Linked DNA regions of Homo sapiens: regions 1, 2, 4, 5 and 6 are each reported to be linked to region 3. The links are microRNA targets in miRTarBase. Many come from high-throughput screens and were not tested one by one. Region 3 holds a microRNA gene; each other region holds the end of a gene's coding sequence.
The links. Region 3 holds the annotated microRNA hsa-miR-8068 (UGUUUGUUGUAAGGAUCGUUGU, at 3,610-3,631, opposite strand). A microRNA usually pairs through its seed, bases 2 to 8, with sites in the 3' UTR of a target mRNA and lowers its output. Matches are read on the target gene's strand: a 7mer-m8 pairs with bases 2 to 8, a 7mer-A1 pairs with bases 2 to 7 and ends in A, and an 8mer does both.

Region 1: the mRNA of CDH12 is a reported target of hsa-miR-8068. Seed matches in the 3' UTR shown: 7mer-A1 at 1,056-1,062.
Region 2: the mRNA of ADAT2 is a reported target of hsa-miR-8068. Seed matches in the 3' UTR shown: 7mer-m8 at 1,035-1,041 and 7mer-A1 at 762-768.
Region 4: the mRNA of POT1 is a reported target of hsa-miR-8068. Seed matches in the 3' UTR shown: 7mer-A1 at 4,144-4,150.
Region 5: the mRNA of FCHO2 is a reported target of hsa-miR-8068. Seed matches in the 3' UTR shown: 7mer-A1 at 4,268-4,274.
Region 6: the mRNA of ENTR1 is a reported target of hsa-miR-8068. Seed matches in the 3' UTR shown: 8mer at 1,910-1,917.

Annotation. Positions count from the first base shown.
Region 1 is chr5:21,747,266-21,752,690 of GRCh38, reverse strand. CDH12 (cadherin 12) reads left to right here. Exons shown (of 15, transcript NM_004061.5): 15 at 455-2,018. The coding sequence ends at 954. Among named protein-coding and RNA genes, the nearest start is that of SNORA105A, 130 kb to the left of the region's middle.
Region 2 is chr6:143,424,969-143,430,136 of GRCh38, forward strand. It overlaps ADAT2 (adenosine deaminase tRNA specific 2), which reads right to left. Exons shown (of 6, transcript NM_182503.3): 5 at 3,644-3,716; 6 at 1-3,538. The coding sequence ends at 3,495. Among named protein-coding and RNA genes, the nearest start is that of ADAT2, 23 kb to the right of the region's middle. RefSeq lists an enhancer at 2,501-2,570.
Region 3 is chr11:28,473,908-28,479,332 of GRCh38, forward strand. It overlaps MIR8068 (microRNA 8068), which reads right to left and starts at 3,641; the gene lies at 3,574-3,641. It also overlaps a transcript of METTL15 not described here.
Region 4 is chr7:124,819,213-124,824,530 of GRCh38, forward strand. It overlaps POT1 (protection of telomeres 1), which reads right to left. Exons shown (of 19, transcript NM_015450.3): 19 at 3,174-4,862. The coding sequence ends at 4,750. Among named protein-coding and RNA genes, the nearest start is that of LINC03043, 31 kb to the left of the region's middle.
Region 5 is chr5:73,087,065-73,092,489 of GRCh38, reverse strand. It overlaps FCHO2 (FCH and mu domain containing endocytic adaptor 2), which reads right to left. Exons shown (of 26, transcript NM_138782.3): 25 at 4,737-4,901; 26 at 1,968-4,422. The coding sequence ends at 4,400. Among named protein-coding and RNA genes, the nearest start is that of TMEM171, 31 kb to the left of the region's middle.
Region 6 is chr9:136,398,887-136,404,311 of GRCh38, reverse strand. It overlaps ENTR1 (endosome associated trafficking regulator 1), which reads left to right. Exons shown (of 10, transcript NM_001039707.2): 9 at 118-257; 10 at 1,425-2,390. The coding sequence ends at 1,524. It overlaps SNAPC4 (small nuclear RNA activating complex polypeptide 4), which reads left to right and starts at 4,142. Exons shown (of 24, transcript NM_003086.4): 1 at 4,142-4,178. RefSeq lists silencers at 3,695-3,744, 3,895-4,104, 4,175-4,304, 4,375-4,484 and an enhancer at 2,993-3,929.

The sequences.
Region 1 (5,425 bases), not on the chromosome of region 3:
CAGTGAAGATTTGGGCTTATCGCATAAGAAACATAAATTTCTAATTTAAAATTAGGAATGTTCCAATTGGGAAGTTAGCAATGAATGGTAGTCTTATTTATGGATGATAATATTCAAGTTTTCTTATATTCTTACAATTTTCTGTATGAGTGGAAGAACTACTATTTCCTTTTTTCTTTTGTTGCAACACACACTTTTACCAGACCCTAAAATACTTTAATATAAAGACATACTTGTTTCATTTTGTGAATAACTTTGCTATGGTTTCTTGTTAGTTAACAATTTCAAAATTTAAACATATGTATGATCCTATTGATTATGGTATGTTTACTATGAAAGTAACAGGAGGTCATTCACGAAACTCAGCCACCCCTAATCATTTTTAATTTTTATGGAGAGATGAAATGACCTATCTGCTTTCTATTCTCAAATTGCAATTTTTGTCTTGTTCCAGCCATAGTTGTACTGTATGTAGCACTGCGAAGGCAGAAGAAAAAAGACACCCTGATGACCTCTAAAGAAGACATCAGAGACAACGTCATCCATTACGATGATGAAGGAGGTGGGGAGGAAGATACCCAGGCTTTCGACATCGGGGCTCTGAGAAACCCAAAAGTGATTGAGGAGAACAAAATTCGCAGGGATATAAAACCAGACTCTCTCTGTTTACCTCGTCAGAGACCACCCATGGAAGATAACACAGACATAAGGGATTTCATTCATCAAAGGCTACAGGAAAATGATGTGGATCCAACTGCCCCACCATACGATTCACTGGCCACATATGCCTACGAAGGGAGTGGGTCCGTGGCAGAGTCCCTCAGCTCTATAGACTCTCTCACCACAGAAGCCGACCAGGACTATGACTATCTGACAGACTGGGGACCCCGCTTTAAAGTCTTGGCAGACATGTTTGGCGAAGAAGAGAGTTATAACCCTGATAAAGTCACTTAAGGGAGTCGTGGAGGCTAAAATACAACCGAGAGGGGAGATTTTTAAAAAAGAAAAAGAAACACAAATATTAATAGAAATCTCTCTCACACACACACACACACACAAACACACACACACACACACACACTCTGGGACAAGATTCCTTTGATTACCTGGTTTCTAGTAAGTTACTAAATTAATCATATTGTCAGTTTTGGTTTATTCTGCCAACAAGAGATACATCCTATAATGTGTACTTGCTTTGTTTTGTTGTTTTGTTTTTTCACAATCACACTGAGACAAGCTCAGGCCTATTCAATACAATTTACTGACATGACAACCTAGAACGAAGATAGCTATGTGGCATCACGGTGGAAGAGTGTTAGATTTTTCTTAATTCCACTAAAGTGCCTATTGAAACTCTTATCATTTAAAGTGGTGTACAGTACACTCTGCTGTGATGGTATTGCGGGATTCAGAGATAAAGACATAAAACAAAGACACCGTCTTTATGTCAAGAAGCAATAGCGACACTCTGACTCTCCTCATTCCTTTTGAGAACAAAAGAAGAACACTTTCTGATCTCCACCTTCTTCTAATTCAAAAGGTTTTCTTTTTCTTTTTTAAACTGTATGCTAAAACGTATTTGTTTATCCTATCCTTTCAGAAAATTGAAATAAATATGAAAATATCAAGTTCAATATGTAAGTCCCAAATTCTAGAAACAATGTTTGATCTTAACATTAGTTCACATTAAAGCTGTTCATTAAAATGTTACTTTCTTTTCCAAAAAAAAAAGAAAGAAAAAAAAGAAAAAATATTCCTCTTTATAAAGAGAGGCCTCAGGGCTCAAATTACACATTAAAATAAATATTGGTTTTGCTTAATATTGTACTGGTGTGTGGAAAATTGGTTTTAACAGTCACCAGATTCAGCTTTTAGTCATAGATGTAATTTCAAGTTGTGTTTCTATGAAAATTCTTAGAAGAAAAAAGTGCCATTCATTTAAGCATGGAAAGAGAAATTCATTATACAGTTTCTCAGAGTTTCTTACAATCTAGTGATTCTTTGATGAGCAGCAAAAATAAAATACATATCAAATAATAGAGGATGGATTTATAAGATGTCTAAAAATATTTGTTATACATTATTGAAAAAAATAAAAAATCAGGGACTTAAAAAAGTTCAAACCAATGACTGAATCCTAAAATGAACGTAAATTCAATTTCAGGCAGCTGATATACTTACTTTACTTACATGGACTTCAACTTTGTGAGCACCATTATTATATTGGAGCTCATAGTTACCTCTTTGTTCTCTCATCTACAAAAATCTTAATGTAAATTATCCCTTACAAATTCCGTGTAATGATGCAAATTTCTAAGTAATATTAGATTTTATAAGCGCATTAGTAAACTAAACTCACATACATTGCTTTCAAGCGGATTGCACACTAGCGTGGAAAACATAAAAAGATGCAAACTAATTACAAAATAATATATTTTATATGAATATGATAACTACTTAAGTGACTACTCTAATATTGTCACTATATATATGAAAAAAATTAAAGTTGCTTATGGGTCCATCCTGAAGATATGGTCACTATCTAGCTGGGTTTATGAAATACTTATAGATATATTTAATATTTGCAAGGTTTTGAAGCTAAAAATTTACACATGACAAAAACAGGCAGAAATATAGACAACACAAGAAAATCATATTCACCGTTATTCATTTATAAATACATCCTTTAAAATGATCCAACTACTCACTATGCTGTGGCAATGGGGGCATTTGAATTCACATTCCCCATTTCTTTGTTGATATCTCCCAGTTGCATATTCTCATTTTCTCCCTCTCAGGAATGGCTGTTGAACTTGTTTTCTTCCATCTCATCCCAATTTTACCTTTGTCTATCCCAAGAACTGCATTATAATATTGATGTAGTGTGATAATTTATAGTATGTTTGGGAAAGTATTTACATAACATGTTTTAAAAGCTGGTGATGCCATAACCATCCTAGAGAGAAAAATTAGGACAATTTTGGGATTTGCCTTAGCAACATGATTTGCTATGGATTGATATATAACCCCTGAAGAAGCTTACTATGCAAGATTACTTCTGATAGACAAAAAGATTCCCATCAGGAATTGCTGCATTTTGCATTTTGCTAGGAAATCTAACTGCCTCTGCATGAGATCATTTGGCAGAAGCAACGGTAGCATGGAGAAAACTTGTGAGGGGCAGGTCATTTCAAACTTCATGGCTGAGGTGCTAAACAAAAATATGAAATAAGTAGATCTTATTTTCACCAAACTGTTAAATACTTTTGAGTACATCCGGCTTTTATTTTTGCCACACCACTGCATTCCTTTGCTAGGTCTGCCATAACAAAATATCACAGACTGAGTGACTTAACCGAAATGTATTTTCTCACAATTCTGGAGGCAAAACATCCAAGATCAAGGTGTTGACAGAGTTGATTTCTCCTGGGAGTCCCTCCTTGGCTTGCCCATGGCCGTCTTCTCTCTGTGTGTTCACATGGTACTCCCTCTGTGCTTACTCATGTCCTAATTGCTCTTCTTATAAAATACACCAGGCCGGGCGCGGTGCCTGTAATCCCAGCACTTTGGGAGGCCAAGGTACATGGATCACCTGAGGTCAGGAGTTCAAGACCAGCCTGGCCAACATGGCGAAACCCTGTCTCTACCAAAAACACAAAAATTAGCTGGGCGTGGTGACAGGCACCTGTAATCCCAGCTAGTCCAGAGGCTGAGGCAGACAGAATTGCTTAAAACCCAGGGGGCAGAGGTTGCAGTGAGCTGAGTTGTCACCACTGCATTCCAGCCTCGGCAATAGAGTGAGACTCTCTCTCAAAACCAACAAACAAACAAACAAAAACAAAAAAAAGATGCCAGTTATACTGTATTAGGACCCACCCATAATAGCTCTTTTTATCTTGATTACCTCTATAAAGGCTCTGTCTCCAAATATAATCACATTGTGAGTTGCTGGGATTTAGGACTTCAACATATGATTTTTGAAGAGACACAATTCGGCCCATATCAATCACACAGGTGTTCATCATATTTTCTTTTTTAAAAACTGGCTTGGTTTAAAACACACACAAAAAAACCCAAATATATGGAAAAAAATGAATAGAAATGATTTCAGATACAATGGGTCACCAGAGGAGAGATATGGGGAAAAGAGGTCTTTGGTGCTCGTAAATATAAATATTATGGGATACATTTTATGCTATGACATCACACTAGGCCTAATATTTCAATACTTATAACATGTTGGGTTCTGTTTTATTTATAATAACAAAATTACTGACCTTCATTTAAGCATTAAGCACTATAAAAATGTTTAGAATTTATATGGGGAATTTTGACTATTAATAATAATTAAACCATAATTTTGTTATTGCCTTGCATGTTTACTTTTATAGAAGTATGTATGTATGTATTATATGTAACATATGTGTGTTACTTATATCTATTTTTAAATGTTACATTTAATTATATTCAATGAAGTATTAGATCAACACATATGAGTGAAACGATGTGATATGCTAGAAATGATCTAAAATTACTTTTGTACCAAATTCTCACCAGAAATATGGGTCAAGCTCCTTAGCCTCCCAGTGTTCTGTTTTCTTTGGCAAAATTAATTTGTTGAACTTAGTGTTGTACAAATTTCCTCTAAAATGTCTTGATTCTGAAATTCTAGTGACAATCTTATGAAGTTCACTAAATCATTTAAATATTGACTACATATAATTATGAGAATCACAGAGAACCTTTAAGCATAATATAAGAATTAGGAATCTTTGAACTATGGATTGCATTGGTTATACATTAAAACTCACCGCTTCTACAACATAAGAGGAGCCAGACAAACATTTCCTAGGTGCAAATGTCAAAATTCTTCTGCAAGATTGAAAAGCAGAGGTGTACATATGAAAAGAGAGAAAAAAGTGTTAAAATAGTTAGGCCCAGATCTTGAGCCAAACAGGATAAACAAATGGTAGGAAGAAAAAATTAGAAGGGATGTGCTATTGCCCACAGAAATCCTTGGAAAATTTCAGTAACTATTTTATTAAAAATGGGAATTCCTAAAACCACATGTCAATACGCAGGCCTTATATTTGAAGTGACCCCTAAGTTATTACTAGACCTGAAGAAAGAGTTTATTAAATGTCAATAAACAGCCTGAGTTTGGTTACTAAAGGAAGGGACATGTGTATGTGGTGGTAGGTGTGTGTTATTTTCATAAATTACTCCTTCCTTGAATTTATTTATTTATTTATTTATTTATTTATTTATTTATTTGCCTCATCAATCTGTAGTTTGGCTAGGTACATAATTCTCATTTGAATTATGTTTTTTAAATGATTTCCTCAATATTCTGAAAACAGTTTCTCTCATATTTTAGCATCCAACTGAGGTGATGAGATAGCATAGTGACCATGTCATTCTTTTC
Region 2 (5,168 bases), not on the chromosome of region 3:
ATGACCAAAATTGACATCACCTTGGTGTGACGGCCTTTGTGTGCCTCCAGATGTGATATCCTGTGAGGAACTTAACATCAACCAGCACCTGAATCTAATCACAAGAAAATATCAAATAAATTTAAAACAAGGACCATTCTATTATTTAAAAAAAGAAGAAGAAAACAGAAAGGAGGCAAAATGACTGTATTATTTAAAAATGTCAATGTCATAAAAGACAAAGAAAGCCAGTGAAAATGTTCTAGACTAAAAGAAGCTAAAGGCAGACCGGTGCAGTGGCTCACGTCTATAATCCCAGTGCTTTGGGAGGCCAAGGAAGGAGGATTGCTTCAGCCTAGGAGTTCAAGACCAGCCTGGGCAACATAGTGAGACCTTGTCTCTACAAAAAAAAAAAAAAAAAAAAATTAGGTGTGGTGACATGAGTCTGTGGTCCCAGCTACTCAGGAGGCTGAGGAGGAAGGATTGCTTGAGCCAGGTTGAGGCTGCAGTGAGCTGTGATCATGCCACTGGACGACAGAGTGAGACCTATCTCAAAAAAAAAAAAAAAAAAGAAAAAGCTGGATTCAAGACAAGTAAATGTAATGCTGGACCCTAGACTGGACCTGGGATTATAGGGTAGTGGGAGAACTTCTTTACAGGACATTATTGGGTCAGCTGACAAAACTGTAATACAAATGATAGATTCAAGTATATCAATGTTAAATTTACTTAAGTCAATAACTATACTGAAGCATTTCGGGGTAAAGGGCCATGGTGTGTTGTGTTTGTGTGTGTGTGTGTGTGTGTGTGTGTGTGTGTGTGTGTGTGTGTATTTTATATATATATACTTTTCCCAGTAAAAAGTTTAAAGAAAAATTAAGAGTTCTTGCCTACACTGAAGCTCTTGGCCATCTATTTTCTCTCCATGATACTCCAAATACAACACAGGAAGAGATGGTTGTGCCAAGTAACAAGAAAGCACAAAGATATTTTAACATGATCTTTTATCAGTGATTGAAGCCTACCAAAGCATTACATACCACCCATTCTCCACAGTTTGTTGCAAAGACCAGCAAACACTGGATAACTCTAGCAGCTTCTAAATGTAATCATTTCCCCCTAATTTCTCTCAACAGGGCAGTGATTCTAAAACCTTTTTGTATCTCACCACTTTCAGAACTATTTTGTACACAAAACAAGTCTTTCAGCTGGTGTCTTGGACAGGCACTATCAGTATCAATCAATGGAATTCAAGCTGTTGAACTAGGACATCTTAATATTTTAACCCGTGTCTAAGTAGCTGGGGAATGTGGTACTCAGGAAGCTGAATGACCTCAACATATATCCATAATTCCTCACTGTCACTTGGAAATTGCTAGCAGAATTCCATAGAGCTAATGTCTATGACACCCTCAGTGGTCCTGCCCTCCAATCTGCAGTATGCCATATTAATGATTTTCTCCCAAAGCGATGGAGGGAACTGTGCCCCAGTCCAAACATTTAGGACAGATTTTCGATAGGTTAATTACTGAAGAGGGAACCAAAAAGATGGTAAACCACAATTAAATTGTTCAGCTATGCTTCAGAATCAGGAAACACTACTTATCCATCATTCTCCAAAACAGCAAAGACGGAACATATGTATATTGTTAAGTCTTTTCTATCCTTCCCTGTCTATCACTTTATTATTTCCTTCATTCTTTTAGTAGCGACAGTCTCTGGGCTAGAATGCTCATATACTATTTTCGGCTTTGGCTTTTTGTCCTAGATAGTCTTCTTATTCACTTTTCCCCAAATTTCAATCAGTAATTTCATTTAGCAAATGTTTACCAAGAACCTACTGGACATAAGATGCTCAGCCAGACTTACTGGGTGGTACTCTAGAGAGGCAAAACTCCAGGTTGGTTGTCCTACAAATAATCCCCAAGAAAATGATATGAACACAATAAATGCAATGAAATCTGCTTGCAGGAAAGCATAAGAAGCCAGAAATGAATTACGACCAACTGCAAAAAGGAACAAACTAGTAGAAGCACTAAAATTCAATGAGAAGATAATTTTTAAAGTGGATGAAATTGAAGGTGCATGTAACATTATCACAGATTTAAAATCATGCATATTCTCCATAAAACTTTTCAAATGCAGTTAAACACACACACACACACACACACACACACACACACACACAAAACCAAGCAATTATAAGTCCTCTGAAGCATGTAACTGTGATTAGCTGCTACTCTCAGCAATATAAAAATACTTTCACCACAATTACATTCCAGCCTGTAATGTAATTCAAAACAAACAAGTCAGAGACATCGCTCAAATGACAGAACCAACAAATACAGATGCTTTGCATCAAGGAAATGAATCTACTGAAGAAATGCAACTGAGGAGCAGCAGCCCCTCCAGGGCCTGGAGCTGAGCTTCTGGTGGAACGGCGAGGCCCCCTTCTGGGCAGAGGCACACAGTGCGCCCAGAGGGCTGTGCAAAGCTGCCCTGTAGTCATGGAGGTGAACTGGGGACTTCCTGCTGTGGATACCCTTTCCAGTGTTGTGTTCAAAATTTTACATTTTAGATTTTAAATTTATTATATGGATTATAAAAGAAATAACCATTTGTTTCAGATTAAATTGATCATTCTATTTTTCAGTCAGCATTCTCACCACCAAATGGCACCTATCCCCTTTACCCTGTGTTCCTTTTGCTTTTTGCCATAACTCTTATTGTCCTCCAATAAACTGTGTAATCTATCATATCCATCTCCCCTTGCTAGAATATAAGCTCCATGAGGGTGGGATAATTTGGTTTTTTGCTCAATAACAATTGTCCCATTTATGTCTTTATCTTTTAAGACTATTCATCTTCAAATAAGACATAAATAAGGTTTTATTATAGCAATATGCTATAATTTTTAAGTGACAACTCAAGCACTTGTTTTAAAAGTATGCATTTTTTCTAAATGCTTTATAAAAGCAAAGTCTTTTCTAAGGACCATATAATTATGGTCTCTATATACACAACTTATATACAATTTAGAGAGAAGTCACAGCCCCCAGTGCCCTGGAAGAACATCGTAGCTGCAAAAAATGAAGAATCTGATTCTGAAATGCCAGTCCTGGAGAAGGTGTTCTCAGGGTGGCAAACTGCAGTCCAAACACACTCCAGGTCCCTGGGTCTGGCCACACATTCTCTAAGAAGTCAGCACTTGCCTGGACTGGGCACTTGTGGCTAGAAGGGTATGCACTACTTGCTAATTTCTAAAACCTCAAACCTTAATTTTCCCCCATCTTAAAATGGGAATCAGCTTCTGGAAAAGCTAATAACTGTTTACAATTGTCAGACTTCTAAAAAGTGCTAATTTGTTCCCTTAACAGAGCAAATGATGAGAGACACCATTTTCCTGCAGATTAAAAACAATATATAAACATATGATTCAACGATGTCAACAGCTTTCAGTCTATGAATCTTGTCCAGGTCACTTTGGGTCACTTGGTTCTTTCATCAGAACATGTTCAAGATTTCTGACATTCCTTTTTCCGAACTTTCGATTTTGGTGCTGTGAAAAGAATAGAAAAGAAAAAGAAAATGAAGAGGTAAGCTCATAGCAGATTCTCTTTGTATGGATTTAAGGGAAGGACATTATCCACAACAGAAAACTGACCATTTGGATTTTCTTGTTTGTAGAAGGTCTTTAACATTTCCACTGCTTCCTCAGCCCGATATCCAGGGATACACTGATGGAATGAGAAAGTTGAGAATAAACATAGGCCTATGAAAATGTGTGCTGTATCCCATAAAAACAACATATATATACATGATTATGTAAACAGATTTCAGATGTTAATAAACTTTGGGGATATTAGTAACATGGGTAAGGAGGTACACTTCCAAAAGATGTTTGATATATCATCTTTTTCATTACTCCCAATCAACTGTTATTAGGCATCACTCCCAATCAACTGTTATTCATCCATTAACTATTATAGAAGTTACCAGCTTTGTGATCTTGGGTTAGGCACTTAAACTCTCCATGCCTTATTTATACAATGCTGGCAATAATAGCACTTACTTCAGGGGATTTTGTGAGGATTAAGTGAGATAATACCTGTTAAATACCAGGCACATCATAAGTGCTCATTAAGCATTAGTTATTTTTATCTGCTCCTATTTACTAGTGGTCCATTAAGCATTCCATGCTATAGAGCTAGGGTTGGCAAATTATACTTGGTGGACCAAATCTGTTCCATAGCTGAGAACTGTGAGCTAAGAATGGTTTTTATATCTTAAAAGCTTTGTTAAAGAAAAAAAAAGACTAGGTGACAGAGATGTAAGCGGCTCACAAAGGGTGAAATATTTACTAGTTAACCCTTTGCAGAAAAAGTTTATCAACCCTTGCTACAGAGGATTTTAAAAAATAAAATACAGCTTGTTCTATCTTTAGCATCTAACTGGGGAAAAGAAATCATAACATGTGAAAGAATAAATAAGAAATTGTGCTAACAGTAAGGAGTGTTATATGAAATATTACCTGAAGAACATGAAACTTGAACTTGCCTTAGAGATAGAGAATATTTAAAGAGGCTAAGCAGAGCATTTCAGGGAAAGGGCAAGAAGAAGCCTGGGTTGTGTGTGAGGAAATCAGCTGACAGAGGAGGAGACTATTAAGGAAGCATAAGGAAAGAAAGACAAAAAATTGGGGTAAAAATATGTACGGCTTTGAAAGCTTGTCAGAAGAGTTTGGACTTAAAACCAAGCACCCTTCTGAAGTGCATGAAGTGACACAATGAGCATCTGGAAGGAAGGAGCCAGAAAGCATAGGCACAGAGGACAGGAGGACCAGCTACTGTGAGATGCTGTTCAGAACGAACCTCCCATTCTCCTGTGTCTTCAGTCTGCCCTTGCCTGGGCCTCCGACACCTGCATAAACCTTCGCCATAACAAATAACCTTCCATCCACCCTGTCCCGTCAAAGGCTGACACCCTGCTCCTGCCTTCACTCCTCAGTGGCCTCATCTTCACTGGCTTGAGTTCCCAGCACTTCACTGAGTCTGCCCTCTCAGAAATCCCCAGGTCCCTACTGACCAAAACACTTGCCTCCTTTCAGATTCCTCAACTCTGCAGTCCTGGAGGCAACTGGCCACACCTGCTCTGTCTGACCGCTCTTGCCTCCCTTGGCTTCTCAGCAT
Region 3 (5,425 bases):
TTTTTATGCCACACCCTTTCCTTTTCCCCATTCCCATACCCCAGGGCAGAATTGATATTTCCTCTTCATGCTTCTATTCTACCTCTGTGAAAGACTCTAGAGTATGTCAGTTGTTTCCCTATCTATTCTCCCAGTAGCAGTGAGCACCAAGGCAGCTACTGCCTCATCTTGTACATGGAGAGATGCACACAAATACACATGTATATACATACTTATAGATGTATAAGTATATACAAGTATAAATGTAAATATTTATAAATCTATCCTTAATAACAGAAAATATTTATTACAAATATTTAATACATATTAAATATGTCTATATAACAGAAAATATTTATTATAAATATTTATATCCATTTTTCTCATGCTGGCCTCCCCCCTTGTGATAAATATACACTAATTTAAGGTGTCTATGTTTAATTCTCCTTTCTTTAATCCAAGAAATAATGATAATGCCTCTCTGTAAAATAGGTCACTAACACTATTGTTGAAAAATATGAGCAAGCCCCCTCAAAATGCTATAGAAGTAAATATATATTCATAAATTTGGATATATATGTGTTCATGAGAAAGTAAGCTCCTAAAAATAGCTGAAGGTGACCCAAGCAGCAAAATCCAGCTTTTTTGGGAGAATATTCACAGACAGCCTGACAGTCTTAAAGTGGATGGCAGGTTACTAAGAAATGAAACTGAAAAGACTCCTGGTCTAATCTGTAGGTATTCAAGGATGATGTAGCCTAATAAGGCCCCACACCAAAGAAGAGCGGATGGTGCAAAAGTTTAGACAAACATCACATTTTTGTGACAAATGTCCATATTTGGTTTGAAAATGCTGTTAACAGAAATATTCCCTGTATGTGGGATTTGACCAGATAATGAAGGGTGGACTCTACATAACCCAAGTGAGGGTGAATGGTGTGTTGTTTCAATACTATTTTAAACTCCCATGCAGTTACTAATGGTGGTACTTGGTCATTGAACCTCCCAGGTCTCAGGATAAGTGCCCTATGTTTAACACATGGAGGCCATAAAGACAACCTGACTTGCTGGTGATACAGGTGACCAAGAAGCAGAGGTCCTCAATCCTCTCTCTCTCTTATTTAATCAGATCGTTTTGATAGCCAAAGGTGGTTATTTGAACTGGATCTGGATAAGCAAGACGCCTACAGGTCAGTTAAGCAGTTGTACTCACCTGGGCAAGAGTTGATTTGAACAAAGGCTCTGGAAGGTGTAAAGGGAAGGTAAACCCACTAGAAAGAAGCTATGGAAGGCTAGAGGCCCTATTAGGGACTGAGTTTCTCACAGTGAGTGGAAACCATGAAGCTAAGCTCACAGCCAAGCTTCATGTTGGTAATTCATGTTGATACTCTAAATGATCAAATGAAAATTGCATGATCCTCTTCACCAGCTTGGTGGTGTGAAGTCACTTCTTTTTCTTTTTTAATATTCAGGTAGCATAGAATTATTCTGAGATTTTCCCTCCATCTATTGTCCAAGATTTCTACTTACTTAGTCCAAAGAGTCCAGCCCCATTTCTAAACTTCAGGAAAATAGAAAACTAGAAAATGATTTGTCTGGTCATGGTCTCGTGGTGTGGCTGTTGAGAAATGGTTTTCATGGTTTGACACATCCTGGTACCCTACTTCAGTGTTGCCATTGGTGGTCCAGATCTTCTACAGGGTGTATTCACTCTTCAAGAGTAAATTTCTTCACTGCCTCTAGTGTTATGTTCTGTTCAGAGTGTTATCTTTTAGGCTCCCAAGGTTGCAGTTCTCTAGTTGAGATTTTCTTCTACTTACAGCATTCCCCTGAGCTAGGGAATCTGAGCGGTCCAAAGGGAATTCAACCTTAATCGTATGTTTTTCCAAAGCCAACCTTCCAGATCACACTCAGTTACCCTCTTTTTACATTTAATAAAACTTAGTTCCACAGAACTGAAGAATTTGCCTGTCCACTAAGTGGCTGAGCAATGGCAAATTTGGGGGCCTGCCTCTCAATCAGACCAGTGACTGTCCTCTCCTCCTGCTACCACCTAGGCTGCCTGCAGTCCTCTGTGGCATGCACACTTTTTGGGAAACAGTGATCTTCAGCTGAGCTTAATGCACAGCACCCTGTCATGATACCTTCATCTGACTTCTGTTTGCTTCCGCAGAACCAGGCTTGCTAGGGGTAGTAGACAAAGAACAGAAAATGAATAATTTATATTTGACTCTCTCACAGAGGCTCCCCACTGGGTTGCTTTCTAGGAAAAATATTCCTGGCTTGCAGTCTCAGCGTGAGAGTATGTGCCAAGCCCAGCCCATTGTCCCCCTCTTCACACTGTCTGAGATATTAACCAGACAGAAATATCAGGCTGCTGGGTTTGATTATTGCCTCTTTATTTTGGTCCCTGGGAAGAGGGAATGCTTTCTATCATTTATGGATAAAACCTCATTTTTCTGAGTGTTGAGTTGTTGTCGAAATGACCCAGATGGTAGATAAGGCAATAGTGGTGACTCTAACAAGACCACCAGAATTCTTATTTGGTATTATTGATGAGTTTCCTTTCTGAGCTTGGCTGTGAGGTATTTGTATTCATCTTCCTTGCAAGCCAATTTCCATTGGTCTGAATTACGTACTGAGAGTTGAGACAGACCTTAGAGGCTTATTTATTCCATTTTATTCCTTCCTACTGTTCTAAACAGGTTAATCAATATGTCCTCGTTCTTTCCTAAGAGAAACTATATTTCCTTTCAGACCATGTAGAAGGGCAAGCCCTGGAATGCTATGTTGTTACCACAGGACCCAGGATCCTACCCTGGTCACATGTTGGTATCAGATGTGAGGATCTGACTTCAGGCACACCTTAAGCTAACCAGTGATCTATGGTGTAGCTTAGTGCTAAAAAAGTTCAACCAATGACTCTTAGGGGATAATCAGTTACCTTTCTGTACTGCACTTCTTAGTGCTGTAGAACAAATCATATTGTGAGCAGTGAGATAATAGAGAAGGACCATAATAGACATGAGTGAGCAAAGTTGTGAGTAATTTAAAACTATGAAGCAGCAGAAATTACCGATAAATTGAGAATGGGGTTGAAAAAGAAGTCAAGTAGTAATAGGAGAAGCAAGAGACAGAAAGAGAAACAGGAAGAGAGGGTAGCATAGTGCTTAGCCACGTTAATGGGAGTCTGCCTGTGACTAAAATCCCCAGACTTGTGCTGTTGAGGTCTAGAGCTTCAAGAAATACAGAATAACTTTTTGTTCCAGTTTCTTTATGTATGGTCATATTGCAATTTATTTTCTTTTCTTTTTTTGAGATGGCGTCTCACCCAGGCTAGAGAGCAGTGGCACGATCTTGGCTCACTGCAATCTCCGCCTCCTGTGTTCATGCAATTCTCCTGCCTCAGCCTCCCAAGTAGCTGGGACTACAGGTGTGCACCACCATGCCTGGCTAATTTTTGTGGGTTTTTTTTCAGCAGAGATGGGGTTTTGCCATGTTGGCTAGGCTAGTTTCGAACCCCTGACTTCAGGTTATCCACCTCCTTGGCCTCCCAAAGTGCTGGGCATATTGCAATTTTTATTCTTGAATATCTGGCAAAGTATTTGTTGTAAGGATAACTGTATTGCCACAACGATCCTTACAACAAACATGAGTTAGCCTGAATGGAACTCTGTCTCACAACTAACATAAAATAGCCTTCTTCATTTCCTACCTCATCCAATATAAGGATTTCCCTTATAGCATCCCTGGAAAAAAATCTATACACTGTCTATTTAAAGACCCAAAGATTGGGTGTTTTATATTATAAGAATGCTCATTTCATTTTAAATAATTTTATGGAGTCAATCTTGAGGCCGTTATCAACTTATCCAGCCCTTCCATTGTTTTTAATATTCATCTTGAGCCATTCATTATCCTTGAATTCTTCTTCAATATTTATTTGTTTTTTAACCTAAAATTTTTCTGTATGGTATTTTTTGAGCATTAAGCTCAAGTTACTGCTAGCTTTTAATTTTCCTTTCCATTTTAGAATGCATCCTCTGATAATTGATTCTATATAGATATGGTTCTTACATGTTGGTGGTCTCTGTTGGCCACATACTACCACCAGATCCTAAGTTCTCTTTTCAAAATTGTTTTATCCTTTATCTATCTATTAGCATGGCCAAACTCTCTTATACCCCAGCTATAAAACTTTATTTTATATTTTATTTTGTTATTTTAGACCTATGTCCATGATCTTAAAACTTTAGTCAGATAAAGAAAGGACCATCTGGAAGAATCTGGAACCTCTAGTTATTAAATAAACTGTAAATCCTAAGGAGATACCATATGAAGGAGTAAATTTCCTCTTATCTTGGTAAAAATGTTGACCATGCTGTTTTTATGAATTCAAGCTCTGTTTATATCCTAAAGCTATGAATCTAAAGACCACTCACAGAGATGGTGATTATGAGTCTATGCCTACCATGATTTCGTGCCTTTAAATTAGACAATTTTCACCCCATCACTCAGATAGTAGACAACAGAAGACAAATATTAGGCGAGTCTGTGGCCTCAATCGTGGTGATTATCTGACCTCTCTTGCATGGTTTCTGTCTGTATTGTTTGTATCTACTAAATTTCAGTGTTACCTTCCTCCAGAGCCTCTTGTCTTTATCTCCAACTTTTTTATGTCTCAAATGTGCCAGCAGATTTGGTATCCCCGCTTTTGATGCTTGGGATGCCTGGGAACATCTCTTGCATTCTTTGGCTTGCTTTGCTCCTGGATGCTCAGGGTAACCACCTGGTATTCATTCACCTCCCCTTTCTCCAGAAACAAAAAACATGAAGCAGTAAGCAACAGTGGCAACTTAAAGAAAGATCAATATGCTATTATTGCTATTTTACAAATGATCTTCTAGTTTTTGGGAGGTTCCAAGGGGCCATAAGTGACTTGGAATGGAAAGGAGTTTTGGTGTTGATGTTTTTTTGACTTGTAAAAAGCTTAAATTCCATTATCTCCTAGGAAGCAGAAAACAACATGGCACCTGCCAAGGGAGGCCCCATGGTTAAGGTGCAGATTGATGTGAAAACAATAGAGAGATGTATTTGGCAGGCGTTCTTACTACTACTATAAGAATGTAAACTTGTACTTTGAAAACTCTAGTTTTTTGCTTATTTCTCTTTGTGTGTGTGTGTGTGTGTGTGTGTGTGTGTGTGTGTGTTTGCTTTTGTAATGTTATAAAATTCCAGCCATGATCAGTTGAACTAAGAATAAAGGAAAGGGTTGTTGCTATTTTGTTTTATTTGTTGATTCTTTAAATAAATATTTATTGAGTGCCTACTGTATGTCATGACTATGTCAGATGCTAGTGTTAACAGAATGAATAAGAAAGATAGAAGCCCTGCCCTTGTGAAAATTTCAGTCCACAAATGTTTTGTAGGACAAGTTGAGGAAGAA
Region 4 (5,318 bases), not on the chromosome of region 3:
TGTTTCTAAAGGTGTGTCCTGTGTCTCATGTTTGTCTTTTATTGTAAATCGCAGCAAATCCTTTTTGGATACAGACACTGTATGAGTAATAAATGAATACAGAGGTATGTAATAACTTTTACATATCATTTTGTACTTTGTATTCTTTGTCTTAATCTCCATTTAACCTTTTATTGTACAAAAATATTTAATGATTCCAAAATTTAAAGGTGTTTATTTTTTTAGAACCTTTTCTAATGAAGATTAAACATATAAGATTTCCTATACAAAACTAAAACCACAGCCATGCCTACCTGCTGCAAGCGATGTTTTCACTTGACTCCACAGGTTAATACTTTTGATTTTAAAATGACTTACCTTCCTTGTAGTGCTATGAGAGACTTGCATTAGCTATTTATGTATGTATTAACTATTATAAAAGCTTGGGACAGAATGTCACTTACGAAGTAGCTAAACTTGGCAAGAGACTTTAAATTCTAGAAAGACTGCCTTCTAATGGAGGACAGAAGTCGGCTAAGGAATAGTGTTTGTGTAACAACAAAAGGGCTTTTATCTGGGAGTTCCAATTTCAAAGAAGGGAAAAACCATTTTGAAGTTATAGGGAAAAAAAGCAAGGTTGTATATAAAAAGGTACATGTTTAGGAACTGCACCATATTTGTTTAATAGATGATAGGAAGCTTAAGGTTTTTAACACACACATGCTCCAAATCTTTAAAATACTATGAACAAACAGATGAAATAAAAGAAAGTTTCACAAAAGTTGAAAATGCTTTCTTTGGTAGTTGTGGACTAGATTTTTAGGTAAATTCCAACATAGTACCCTGCAAAGTGAACACAAAGAAAATAAAAGCACACACACACACACACACACACACTACCAATGTGACTGTGACTTTGTGGCCTAGATCTCAAGGAAAAATACCAGAAATTCATTAAGATGTTGCTAGAGTCGAAAAATAGCCGAGGAATCTCTGCACTATCCATGTTTCACCAATTGGCCATGTGAGGGAGAGCTCCCACATACACTGATACATTATCTTTGTCATTGTAATTGATGCCCAATAATTTTCAACCCATCAAATGCAGTCCTGATGGAAGGGACATTTATTTATCTCCATGTAAGATGATCATCACTTAGAATCCCTAGCTGATCTCAAATTTCCTAACAGCTTAAATCACAATAGTGAAAAAACAAAACAAAAACAAAAACATAGCACTACTAATTTCCCGACTGCCAAAAGAAGATAGGATCTCACATACCTGAGAGCACCTATGAGTGCCTGCTTAGTGAGTTTAGATACCCATTCCAAGTACCAGAGAGAAGACAGGTCATCATGCCCAGATTTTACTAGCTGACTAGGTCCCTTTTTCCTGGAATGGGTAGGGTTGACACTATCCAGAGATTCCGAGGGGCCAAGAAAGGAAGAGATATTTATATTTCCCCTAAAATAATGTTCTAGAACTTTAGTGTGACTTATCATAGCCTTCACAGAGTCTGCATTTCCTAATGAAAAGCATTACAGAAGGTGTTCTTTTTTCTTACATTAACATTCGTTTCACAATAAATTCTTCAAAGCATGAAATAATAATTTAAAGCAACTATGTCATGGCTGAGTCCTAATCCTGTATTGGAAGTCTGTATAGGTCTCCAAAACTCTTATCACCTAAAAACCTCCAGAGGACATAGTGAAACTAGGTTTCTGGGCTTCCAGATGCATTTAAAGGGGAAATAACACCAGACAAAATACAGACTAAAATAATAAGTAAAACACATTATCATGAATAACTATGTGGTAACAAAGCAGATAACAAGAATACATTTTTGTAAACATATAAAATCCCAAACTGGCACAATAAAAAATAGAATACTTACACAAAAAACCACAACAGAAATAGTAAAATTATCAGAGAATTACACATTGAAAGTTACTTATGCTGAGTAATTATAAGCAATGAGTTTCTCCCTGTATGTATCAACATGAAAAAATACAGTTGTCTATATAAAGTGACAAAAGTTGCACAACTATTTAACATGATGCTAAAATATATATGTGTGTGTATATACATACACACATATGCATGCTCACATGTTCTTAGAAAGAACAATCTGAAAAATTATACACTGTATTGTTAAAAGTGGTTTCTTCCTGGGTACTAATTGGAGCAGGAATCAGTTCAAGTTTATAGACCCTATATTTGTTTCAAATTCTTACTTCTATTAAAAAAAGTCTAGATAAAAACAAAACTTGATGAAATATACGGTCAAATTTAAAACAACATTGAAAATAATCAAAAGAGTTTTTAGCCTTTCCAGATCCCAAGAAAAGCTTCTAGAAAGTATAGAAGAAAATTGTCTGGATTCAGAGTCACACGTAGTGACAAATTCATGCTTTGATATCTAAAACAGGACTGCATAGTCAGCTGGGAAGTAGGCAGGAAAAAGATTTTGGTCCTTTTCTGTTACCTCCAAGTAGCTAAGGCACAGGATCTACACCAATTTGAAATCTGGGCAGCCAGTACCCAAATGGGTGAAGAGACTTTTTTAGGTAGACAGAGGTATAGTCAGCTTCTTCTAGACCATCAACATCAGTCTTTCTATAATTATTTAGAAACAATTTCCAACTTAAAGCATGAGCAGGGGTAAAAAGAAATGAGGAATGATACATTGTATCTTGGCATGTATAGTTCCCTCAAATACAGCAGTATAATTGAAGGTGGCCACAGAAAAAGCCTGTAAGTAGTGTGTTTCTCATTGCTACATCCAGATAAAGAATAATGGACTGTCTCAGATTTTTCTAAGACATACATTCTAAGAACAATACAGGGACAGCATGAGTCAATCCAGTAGTGTCTTAAAAAATGGAAGCTGCAGAAAGTGGAAACTGAGGGTGAGTCTGTACACAAACTTCTTTCTTAAATTTGTGTAATTTAAAATCTGACAGGAAGATTCTATCAGTGTTTACAGAAAGGGGCAGGGATCAAATTGGGGCACAATGAACTACCATTTAGTTGTTGCTCCAGAAATAAAATTCTCCTCTCTGGGTTCCTGATTAGCATAAAGTGCATACATCATCTCTAGAGAAACACTAGATGTTGATGGAATAATTCTTGCTAAAAACTGAAAATTTTTTTAAAAAGACAAGGACAAAACCCCACAATAAACCAAAAGAAATCATGATAAGGTGGATGTTTATTTAAAACAAAAATAAGAAGAGACATGGCCTATCATCATGAAGATTCATAGGAAGAGTTTTCCTTTGTTAACGTGGAGATCTTGCAGGCTCACAGTGTGAACATATGGCACCTTTGGACCTCTACTCTTCTAGATTGAGGGCTTCCTGAAGGCAGAAAAAATGTTTATTTCACCTTTGTATCCTGAGCACATCATCAACACGGAAACACACCTGTTCAACTGTAGGGTTTTAAAATATTTTTCCTGAAAATGTTTTGAACCAAGAGTCTATATTCTTGAAAATAAAATCAGTCTTTCTCATTGTCTCAAACAAGCTGATAAGTCGATGATGGGGGACATTGGTAGTTAGGTAAAGAAGATGTGTTAATGTACTCAGGAACTAGAATTTAGAGTTATTATGAGCAAAGAAAGTCAGTTATCCAATCTTTTTGACAATAAGATGTTAAAAGTATTTTGAAACTATAGAAAAACACACTGACTCCTCTTATAATCTATTTCCAATGTTATTTCAGATGTTTAAGTCAAAGACTCGTTGCAGAAAACTGTTAGCTTCTGTTCCAGAATCCTTGAGTGGTTAACAGTACAGGCTCTGAATAGAGATTATGTGAATTAAGGCACAGACTCTAGCTTTTACAAACTGTGTGAACTTAGTCAAGTCAGCTTATCAATCAAGCCTCAGATTTCTTATCGGAAAAATAGGTTGCTGTGAGGATCAAATACATGTTTAGTGCTTAGCACAGTACCTGGGATGTAGACAGCCCTAAACATCTGCTGCATTGCCACACCTATTTCGATTCTTTGCCTCATATCATTTTTCAGCTCAACTTAGGGCAAATAAATGAAACAGTTGAAATGTGTGCACTTATTTATTCTTCACTAATATTAAACCAGGTAATTTATATCTGTCTTTGGCAAATAACATACACAAATCTATATATATATATATAAATGTTTGTATAAAATTGAATATTCATGATTTTAAATTTGACAAACACTGTCAGGTAAAAATCAAACTATTTTACTAAGTTAACATCTCATTCAATTAGTTGTAAGTTGTAATAGCGGCATATTTTACATGAGACTATTAGAAAAGGATAATATTAAGTCATTAACATTATAAATCTGACCACTTTTATTAGGTTGAGGTGAAATAGAGAAATCTCTACTATCCTGGAGAGAAACAAGCAATAAAACCATGTATTACAAGTTTAAAGAAATGAATTTATCCTAAAATCATCAGTATCAGCACCCCAACAAAGCAACTTTGCCATTTCTACTTAAAGTACACTGTAGCTTGATCAGACACTTATCTCAGCAGTACTTGTTTAAGCAGGTCTCTTTGTACAAAAGCAAAACAGAAAGCAAAACAAAATCCATAGCCATTATTTACCTTGCACCCAGTAAAAGCCAAGAGATTTAAGGTAAGGACATTTTCTAATCCCATACCCATGCTAACATCATCAACATTGCTGATACAAAACTCAGGTCAGGAAAAGAAGCTCAAACAGGGAAGGTGAGTGGCAACATTTTATGTATGCTAAATTGGATGGCAATATTAGATTACATCTTCTGCAACTGTGGTGTCAAAAATCTGATAGCAAATTTGATTATCTGTTCCATTTGTGACATTGTATGACTTGATGAAGCATTCCAACCACGGATATGCATCTACAAAAACAAAAACAAAAAAAGCGATTTAACCATTAAAACAAAATAAATAACTCTGAAATAGGTACCTAAGCTTACCACTGAGCTAGAAAAATTAACATTTATTTTGGCTTGAAAAGTAAGTAAACGTCCCTTCCAAATTTAACATTATTCTCTCTTCAAAATACATACTAGATTCATGTTATTGTTTTGGAGCAATTGTGACTAATTTGAATTTTTTGCCACAAGCAGGTAACAGTGAGTACATCTTGGGTTTCAAAATGGTTGGTATATATTTTAAAAATCTAAAATAGTGGTTACAATGGGTCTACCAGGCCCATGCTTTTGGATATAAAGACTTACTTCTAGAAATCTATCCAAAAGAATCCAAACAGTTAACACAAATTAAAACTGACAACAAATAAAGGTATTCAAGTTAAACTTGGTTAGAGATCAACACAAATTCCTATCATTATG
Region 5 (5,425 bases), not on the chromosome of region 3:
CTCCAACCGTAAAGAAAGGGCGAATGACTTGTTCTGACCAATGCCAACAAGAGGTAACTTGAGCTGTGATATGAAAAAAATGTTTAAACCAGGGGACCCCAACCCCAGACCACAGACTGGTAGTGATCTGTGGCCTGTTAGGAACCACGTTGCACAGCAGGAGGTGAGCAGCAGGTGAGCAAGCATTACTGCCTGAGCTCTGCCTCCTGTCAGATCGGCGGCAGCATTAGATTCTCACAGGAACGGAAGTCCTATGGTGAATTGCGCATGTGAGGGATCTAAGTTGTACGCTCCTTATGAGAATCTAACTAATGACTGATGATCTGAGTGGAACAGTTTCATCCTGAAACTATCTCCCCACACCGCTTCATCCATGGAAAAATTGTCTTCCACAAAACTGGTCCCTGGTGCCAAAAAGGTTGGTACTGCTGGTTTAAACCATTCTTAGTTCTGTTTCTGTTACTTGAGGCTAAAAACATTACTGACAGATAAAACACTCATGCTAAAAAGATAAGCAGTGGTTTCTGAGTTATCACAAATGTTCATTCAGAAACGATCATTAGGAGGCGTATGGAAATAATTATATATATTTAAAAATATGGATAAAATAGCTACATACAGTAAGAAATCATGGAAAAAACCTTTAATACTGAGAGCCACTGAAACCATTAAATGCACATTAGGAAAAAGGAACAAAGAAAATAACAAAATGGAGCAGGGGTGGGGTACATGGCAGAGGTTTACTCTGTGTTTATCAAAACCCCGTTTTCTTCCTGGGCACATAACCAAACTACATTTCCCATCTTTTTTTGCAGTTGGTTGGAGCCACAAGATCAAATCCTGGCTCATGGAATATGGTCAGAAGTGATGATGCCAATTCTTCTGGGCCTGGCCCATAAAAACTCCCATCTAATCTTTGCTTTTTCTTCATCTGCCGGCCAAATGAAGATTTTAAGCAGAATCACAGAATGGGAAGAGCCTGGGCCCCTGAATTACTATATGGAGCAGAACTCCTCCTCAAACCTACTTATGACTGTGATAAGAGCAATGTAGTAAGTATTGTGCTTAGCTATTGCAGCAGCTAGCATCATTTAGTCTAACAGAGGTGGGAATGGGATGAAGAGGAAAAAGGAAGAAAACGATGGGCATATGGTATGAATGGTGAGTGCTATCAGATCTTTCCACAGGTTCCTCTGCCCTGGCCTACCTAGATAAATTAAGCTGTTCCTTTTTTAACACAGATTGGCAACATTTTTTCTTTTTTTCAGACAGGGTCTCACTTGGTCACCCAGGCTGGAGTGCTCTGGCACAATCTTGGCTCACGGCAACCTCCACCTCCCGTGTTCAAGCACTTCTCCTACCTCAGCATCCCGAGTAGCTGGGACTACAGGCATACGTCACCATGCCCAGCTAATTTTTATATTTTTTGGTAGAGTTGGGGTTTCACCATGTTGGCCAGGCTGATCTCGAACTCCTGACCTCATGTGGTCTGCCCACCTCGACCTTCCAAAGTGCTGGGATTACAGTAATGCGCCACTGCACCCAGCCCAAAATTTTCAATAGTTAGGATAAATTCTTTCTTTTCTAATTTCCTTCTTTTGCTCCTTCCTAAATTTACCATTTTGGGAGGCTTGATTGTCTTAACTAATTCTTTGGAACATTATGATTTTTGAACTGTCTGAGACTGTGTTCCTGAGCAACTGGTTAGGAAGAAAGTCTGCAAAAATTTAACATCAATTTAAATATATCTTAAAATATATTAAAAATAATCCCTTGTTAAACAATTTTGACACTTTGGGATATACTCCAAATGAAGCTTTCTATATAACCAATAAATAACAGTTCGATCTGTACGCCTGTTCAAACAGTAGTACAAAGTTAAAAACCAATTACTTGGCCAGCTTGCCTTGTCCTAACATTATGATATAGCTATTACTATCAAGTACAAAGACACATAAACCAATTGATAAATTATATATTACATGTTTATTAAGAGCACAACTTTTATGTAAAATTTACATTTAATGAAAAAAATCAAAAATATTTACAAAATCTTGGAAGACAGATGTGCATTGTTCTAATTACAATCCAAAGTAGTAAATAACAATCCTTTAAAACTCACATTTATTAGAGTTGTGTTTACAAATTCTTGGTTAAAGAGGCAGCTACAAAGTTTATCACTATATATAAGCAAGAACCAGCTTGCTAGGTACATTTCCCATTGAAAATCTACTGGTCTCTTTTACACCATTAGTGGATTTTTAAATGGAAAAAAAAAATCAATATAAACTCATATGGCTTCAAAATTGTAACCTGTACCCAATACTTGGTATGAAGACTGTGGTAACTAAGAAAGTGCAGAAGTTTAACCATTTCACTAATTTGTACATTTTTAGGTAATATTTGATTAAAAACAAACACGGTAAGAACAGTGTCTGAATTCCAATAATAAAATATTGGCTGCCCTAAAAGCAGTTTGATTGCAAAGCAAATTACAGTTAGAATTCCAGTAAGGGACTGTAATTGGCATTTAAAAGAGCACAATATAAGAGTTAGAAATTCTAATTTAGCTCACTATTTAGTAAAGATTAGCATTTTAGCAAATTATCTTATGTGCTGCTTTAGTCAAATGTAAATTCAGACTTGGGCTAACATTGAATATATAAAAAAGCATATACTGTGTTATATATTGCTAAAGAGTAGATTTTCTGCTGTATTTAGTACAGCAAGATGTTACATAAATGTCTAGTAATAGAGGTTTTATTTTCTGTGAAGCTTAACGGAACAATTAGTGGTTTTATATAAATTATCATATATAACACAATTTATCACTTCTACTAGGCAAATAAAGGACACTCATATTTATTATTATAAATGAAATTCCCATTTGTAAATTATGAAACCTTATCCGAAATATTTTATTTCTTCAATTAATCAAGATTTGCTACTAAAGTTAGGTTTCTTACTATTTAGTATTGGTAGTTTATTTTTAGAAATGTTTAACCAAATATATCACTTCAAATAATTTCCCTATTTTTACAAAGTAGAAATTGAATAATTAAAATGTACAAATTGGTAATTTTTCCAATTGTTGAAATAAAAACAAATGGCAGTGCTTCTCCTTCTGTTTCCAAAATTAATCTTTTAAAAAATGCATCCCTCACAAAATACCATAAAACTCATGTTCACAACACAATCAGTAAATAAATGCATAAATTTTCAATGATAAAGTATCAAGGAAAATGCTAAATTGAGAGTTAAAATACCAGTTACCAATTTAGCACTATAGTTTTTTTAGAATTTGTTTTAAAATTCACACACTTTTGATGAGGTTAATGTCAAGTATCTGAAGGTAATCTTTCTTCCTGTAAACACATGCCATTGGGTTTATTTCTCTTTCTAGTGGCTACAGTGTATCACCAAAGAAGTGAGCCAGGATTCTTAAGTTAGGCTTTATGACTCTGAATCCCCTTCCCAGTTGCAGGCCAAAAATATTTACAAAAATTGCAAATATCTTATAAAAATGCTTGATCACTGTAAGATTCTGAACAGAAGATTCAGACTGAGAAAAAAAGTGAGGCACATTAATGAACACAAATTGTATAGGCACATCTCTGGTTTTTGTTATTGTTTTAAAAGGCACACATTATGCAATTCCATATAAAAATAAATTAAATCTACAGCATTAATTCATCAAAAAAATCACAACTCCTATAAAGTTAACTAACTGCAGAAGTAAATGTCTCTGCTGTCATTTGCAAGCTTATTTTAAAACACATTGCACTTGAGAATTTTTTTTAAAAATCATATAAAACATCACTTATACTTTATTAATATGTTTATGAGAATCAAATTATAGATTTTTTGCATACAACTTGGACTCTGGTCTGATTACCTTATGGCACATAGCTCAATTTGATTAAGTGTTCTGAGTTAACATTACCCAAAACTTAGAATTCATGTTCTATTTGTATCCACTGAATATCAAACTTATGAAATTTCAAAGTTATCTCTGACTCTAAAAATGTATGGAAAGCTAAATTACTTTGTGCTTGCTCTTCTGAAACTTTAGGCCTGATATTACACTATAACCCTTTTTTTCAACATAGACACTGGAAATAATTTAAAAATTAATCCTACAAAAACTTCATTTTTACTGAGAATCTGAATAAATGTGCTTCCTGAATATTGTAGTTGATCATTTACAACATAGAGAATCATTTCAGTACTATTTATTTCAATGACTCACTTTAAAAGTGCGATTTAATGTTTGTAGTCAGCTCTCAAATATGTCTAAGTTTGAAAGACATCATACAAGTTAAAATAGTGTTTGGAAAGAACAGATAATGCAGAATGGCAGGTTTGTAATCCCTGAAGCCACATCACTTTCCCAGGTCCATCAACAATCCGCCAGGTATCGTCCTGAAAAACGCCAAGCAGACCTTTGCAATTACAATTTCAAATGCACTCTAAGGACATTTTCCACTGTGGTTACCAATACAAAACTCTAGTTCCCATCTGCTATTTACAGTACATTAGAATCAGATAACAGGTGTTCAGCTATACTGACCGTAAGAACTCTCTCCCAGGTGTGTCTCTACCTGGCACCTTGTACCAAGGGTTAAAGAAAAAATTTCCATGTCTTTAGATTATAAATTGCTTGACAGTTTTTTAATAACTGTTAGAATACAAATGTTTCCCATGTACATTAAAAAGTTTGAAATCTCCTAACTTACCAGTAGCAAACCGCTTCTTTATTAAGGAAAGCCTATAGCCAGTGCCCACAAGTTCGAAATCTACTCCTGAAAGGGTACTTCCCTCGCTGAGGAATTGTACTGCAAGTGTCGTGGGTTTACTAGGTCCTTCTGAAAGATCAAATTTTGCTCGGAGGGACCCAGAACCTACAAAGAAAAGAATAAAGCACTTACACAGGGTAAAATACATTTCAAACAAAATAGAATCAAATGAGCAAGTAAGCTAAACTACATCAGTCCTGTGCTACATTCATTAGATGTGCACAGTAAACAAACTATTATCCTGTTTCCAAATCTCATATTTTTTAGTGAATATCAATTTTCATTAAGTAAATAACCCATGCTTTTCTTTGACTCAATACTAATCTTCAGAGATGTTAACTACTGGACTCCTATGCTATATGCATGTTGAGGCGAGTCAAAAGAGAAGAAGGAAGTAACTGAGGACAGCCCAGAGAAAAACCCTAGGAGGGATATAGGTGGCATAAAGTTAAAAAAGAAATGACTACTGAGTAGTAGAAGAAGTAAAGATGGAAAGGTAACTACGGTTGGGAAGAGTTGTATAACATTGCTATTTTCTATTCACTTTTCTTTTTAAAGTTTTACTGGTCTAACATAATGCCAAGTAGGTATTTCTGAGGTGTTTTGTTTCTAGTATCATCACCATTTAT
Region 6 (5,425 bases), not on the chromosome of region 3:
CAGAGCATGCATCTTGAGTGCCAGGCCCCCACGGGTAAGCCCTCGCCTCGCCAGGTGGTGACTTTCAGCCGGGTTGCCTCGGAGCTGCTCTGTCCTTAGCCGTAACCGTCCCCCCAGGCGCAGGTCTCCAACTTCCAGCGAGAGAATGAAGCCCTGCGGTGCGGCCAGGGTGCCAGCCTGACCGTGGTGAAGCAGAACGCCGACGTGGCCCTGCAGAACCTCCGGGTGGTCATGAACAGTGCACAGGCTTCCATCAAGTGAGTGCCTGGGAGGCACCGGGAAGCCTGGCGGGGAAAGGGGTGAGATTGGAGTGGTCGTCAGTGATCCTGGGTGGGGGCCCAGGCTGATGGCACCGTGGCTGGAGGACCAGGGAGCTGCAGGGAGGGACGCGTGCTCAGTGGTCCTGTTAGCTCTCTGGGTCACTGTGTGGACAGACCACAGGCTTTCTAACCTGCCTCGCAGTGTCTGATCCCACCTGGGAGGTGCAGACAGCCACAGCACCCTGCACTGAACCTCAGCCCCACCCCATGTGGGCGCTGAAGCTCTGAATAAAGGAAATAGTGGGGGTTTCCCTCCTGCTGAAAAAGCCACTTCCCAGAAGGCCCTTACTGCTGTGCCTGGCTGGGGACACGCCAGCCACCATGACTGTGACAGTGGTGAGTGTCTGCCACCCATTGGGCTGAGCTCTGCAGGGCGGTGTTGGCCCCCAGAGCACTCCCTGTGAACAAGGGAGCCGTCTCCTGTGAAGTCAGGTGTGGGTCTCCTCCAAGAGGAGCTAGGAGTGGAAAACCTGTGGTTCTCCCCCAGCCCCTCCCTTTCTCCCAGGAACCCTGTCCCTTTCTTCCCCCGGCAAACCCCACCCCTTGCTCCCAGGAACCCTGTCCCTTTCTTCCCCGGCAAACCCCACCCCTTGCTCCCTGGGACCCTGTCCCTTTCTCCCCCGGCAAACCCCACCCCTTGCTCCCTGGAACCCTGTCCCTTTCTCCCCCCGGCAAACCCCACCCCTTGCTCCCTGGGACCCCTTCTGTTTCTCCCCCCAGAATTCTGTCCCTTTCTCCCTGGAACCCCTTACCTTTCTCCCCGCCAGAACCCTTCCCCTGTGGAATCCCTCCCCGCTCTGGAAACCCTCCCCTTCCTTCCCCACCCCCACCCCCGGAATTCCTCCCCTTTCTCCCCCTCAGAACCTCTCCCCTTTTTCTGCCTACCAACCCCTCCCCTTTCTGCCCCCCACCCCCTGTGGAAACCCTCCCCATTCTTCCCCCTGGAAACCCTCGCCTTCCTCCCACTCAGAACCTCTCCCCTTTCCCTACCCCTTGGAACCCCTCCCTTTTTCCCCCTACCAACCCCTCCCCTTTCTCCCCCCAGAACCCTGTTGCTGCTGAGTAGCTGCTGCCACCCATCCTGATATCCATGCTTGTTTTCAGGCAACTGGTTTCCGGAGCTGAGACACTGAATCTTGTTGCCGAAATCCTTAAATCTATAGACAGAATTTCTGAAGTTAAAGACGAGGAGGAAGACTCTTGAGGACCCCTGGGTGTTCTCAGCATGAAGCTCCGTGTATACCCTGAGGTCACCACCGCTCGATCTAAATGTGCAGTTGTGTCCTTAAATATGCAGTCTTCACCCAGAGTAAAGTGTTGATCGCAAGAGTCCAGTGTCGTGCCCTCAGCCAGTTCTTGGCCACCACAATGGGAGCAGCCCTGGCCGAGTTGTCTCTGTGGTTTCTATGCAGCCCTTCTTGGCGAAATTCCTGCGATCTTATAGATTCTAATGAGCTCTTGGAAGACATTGTCATAAAAGCCAGTGATTTTAAGAAAAAGAGTGGTTCTGGAATCAATGTTTTCCAGTCCCATCCCAGAACATCAGTTGTAAGATAAGTACAATTGGTTGTCCTTGATTTCATAAGTAGAACAAACACTAAATGTGCCTCTGAGATGGCCACCCCGGGCAGGGACCTGTGCCTTCCGCCGATGCTCAGGGCTCCCTCTGGCTCCCGGGTCACTCTTGTGGCCCCAGTGGGTGGTCCCTGCAGTCATGGCCTGAGTGCGCAGGGGCCACCGCGTGGCTGCTGCTGTCCTCCTCCGGGACCCACGGGGACCAAGGTCACACGTTCCGTGCTGTGAAGCTGTCCAGATGTGCCTCTTTGGCTGGGGGTTCTGGTGGACGTTTCAAGTGGCATTTTGTACAATGCAGGTTAGAATTCAGGAATTTCAAGTATGTGCCCGGGTCTGTCAGGTCCCAGTTGCCTTTCTGACGGCCCCCCTCAGAGGGACGGCGATGAGCACTAAATGCTTTTTTGACTATTTTCCTATAGATTTTTTTTAAAACTTTTTTTTCCTCCTGTTCCAATTGATAGCTTTCTTATTTAATAAATTCTGTAGTTCACCGCACTGTCTCTTCTCTGCTGACTTAGCCAGTCCTTGGAGAACGCCGTGGGCTTCCACACCTCACTTGCTCTTGCCCTAACTGGTGCCTTGTGCTGGCAGATTCTCTCCAGGTCCTCAGCCCTTGGGGTTAGGGGCAGACTCAGACCACTGCTGCCTGGGCCTGACCACTGGGACCCACACGTGATGGACGTGTGAGTCACGCAGCTGCACGTTTCAGAGCTGGACAGACTGGATTCTAGCATTGGATCATCTTTTCGGATCATGTGGTTGAATTTTTCAAACAAGGCGTCTGAATTGCTAGACCCCTAGCCTTAGCTACAGGTGAAGGCCAGAGCTTTCCAGCAGTCACTGTGGAGCGGTCCTGCTGCGTAGCCCTATGCGCCTCCTGCTCCTGCTGGTTGGTGAAAGCAGGCTCTGGATTCTGTTGGCAGAGCTGACTTGAGACAGGGTGCTGTGGTTGGGAAGTGCCGGAATGAGGTTCTGAGTGTATAGGCAGCTCTGGGAGCCCTGTAGCAGCAGGATGGGGGCATCTGGGGAGGATGCCTCAGGCCACAGGCCTTCCCTGAGGCCCTTTGGGAGAGACAGCATTTGATGGGGTGGGGGTCACAAAGGCCAGATCGCCAGGCGGGTCCCATCCACCAGATGCGTGTGAAGTGGGGTGGTCCCCTGGCCCTCATGCCAGCAGCTCATGGAGCAGGTGGGGCCCAGGGAAGCGCGGTGGGGATGGGCATGTGGGTTTTGCGCACCCCTCTCTTTTGATGTCTGTGTTTGAAGCGTTTGATAGTAAGAAGTTTAAAAATACAATTTGTGGCGCGGTATTTAGTGCCTGCCTTCTGCCTCCAGATTTCAAGCCCGATGCAGGGACTGAAACGAGGCGCTCGAGGAGCCCCCAGCCGCCTGGTTCCATCCCCTCCATCTGTTTCTTGCCAATCCCTAGCTCCCAGTTTGGCCTCACCTGGGCCTAGCCCTTTGCCACCAAAAGCCCACCTCCTAGGTAGGCAGGGCAAACCCTCTTTATAGTTCTCCAGCTGATGCCCCTAGCTCACCCCAGGCTGGAGTGGAGGCCCCCTCAACTGGCTGGGCCCAGGATGTCTTTGCAGCACCGATACTTAGAAGCTCTCAGGAGCCAGGAACTGTAGGCCCCTGCCCAGCTCCCGGCCGAGTTAGCCCTGGCACGTTCCTGAAGGAATGAATGCCCACTTAGGGGAGGGCCCCGGGGCAGCTCTCCAGGCCAGGAGACCCCAGAGGGTGTGCACAGGTGACCAGGGAAGCGAGTTTGTGTGGTGCGGGCCCCCACCCTCTGGCCTCAGTCTCCTGCACGTGCCTGGAGATCGGCCTGGCCTCGGCGATCCTGAGCATGCAGGGCAGGCTGGGGAAAAAGCCTTTCACGTAGACTTTCTCATCCGTTGCTTAACCAAACCCCAACATGTCCGTTAACAGAGGATGAAACAAGCACAGAGAGGTCCAGCGATGGCCGAAGGTCACAGCCAGTAAGGGCCGGTCTTCCGGATCGTGACCAGGTGGCCGGGTGCCTGTCCCTGTCTGTCCCCTGCCTTGAGGTCCCGCGTCCACCCGCGCCCCTCCAGAGCGCGCGGAGGCGGCCCCCAGGGCGGCCGCGCGAGGGCAGCATCGAGCCGTTCGCCTCTCTAGTCCCGGCAGGCCGCAGCGGCCGTCCCGGCGTGCCCCGCGCCTCAGGAGGCGGGACTTCCGGCGCGCGGCGCTCTTGTTCTGCAGCCGCCGGAAGCGTCGAGTCTGCAGTCGCCCGGGCGACGGCGGGGTCCGCGCGGCCAGGTAAGGTGTGCGCCCAGCAGGTGAGGCGCGGGTGGCGTCGGCAGCTTCAGGGCTCTCCCCGTGGAGGGGGCGCTGTCCCGAGGAGCGGATAGCCGAGGCCCGGGACGGGGGCGGGGCAGCGCCCAAAGTCGGGGAAACTGAGGCCCGGCGTGGCCCCCGTCCGGCCGAGCCTGGGCGCGCGGGGATTCTGGCCCTGGGAGCCCCTCGGCTGGGAGCGGGCTGCGGGCTCCGAGGAGGCTCCGGCGGGGCGGCCCCGGCTGCAGGGCGCCCGCGTGCGTCTCGGGGACTGCGCCGGCGATTCCGCGGTGGCCGAGCCTCGGAGGGGGTTTCCCCAGTTCACGCAGCGAGCAGGAGGCGGAACTGGGCCTGGGCCGGGTCTGTCTCCCAAGCCAGTGCCTAAACGCCCATCGTCCTGGCGCATCCTGGGGTTCCCTGGGCCCAGCCGAGTCTGGGTGGCGTCCCCGCAGCTGGGGCTGGAGGGACCGCCTGCTGCGCTCCGTCTTGGTGGGCAGCCCTCATGACCAGCCCTTGGGAGAGGGGTGCGGGGAGAGGGACAGCCCCTGATGTCAGTGGCTCAGCACGTGTGACTTTGACCTCCTTCCTGCTGATCATTGCTCACCTGAGCGACACGGGGAGGGGGAGGCAGCAGCCTCGTGTGAGGCTTCCAGAGGAAAGCGTCTCCGCCGGCCCGGAGGCGCTGAACCAGCCTGCGGTCGCTGCCAGCTCTGCCTCTGGCCGGCTGTTAACTGAGTTTACAGGTTCACAAGCATTTCGGGCATAAACAAGGGGCTTTGTGAAGGAGTGAGGGGACCTGGGCTGCTGATGCGGCTAACGGTGCTCGCGGGTGGATGCTTTGGTTTTGTTCCAGTTGGGCAGGGCCCCAGTCAGCCTCCAGCAGGGAGAGCCACGCCAAGGACGGGGGAGGGCGTTTCTCTTTGTTGTTGGGTGTTTTGGGCTCCCGGGTCTGTGCTAGTGATTCCTTTAGATTTTCTCTGCTAATGTTTCATTCTCCCACTCTCTCTCTAGCGTCCTTCTCCCTTCAGACTTCCTGGACCACAGTTCCTAAGAAAAAAGCTTGACAAACATTTGTTAGTGTCAGGCACTGCCACGTTCCAGGCGTTGTTCTGGATGTACAGAGAACAGCCAGCCTTCCCTTTGGGAGCTTCCTTCCCAACCATGCTGTTAGTGCCTGCCACCTGGGCAGTCTCAGTGTGTGTCTCTGTGAACGTTTCTCAAATGCCCTCTGT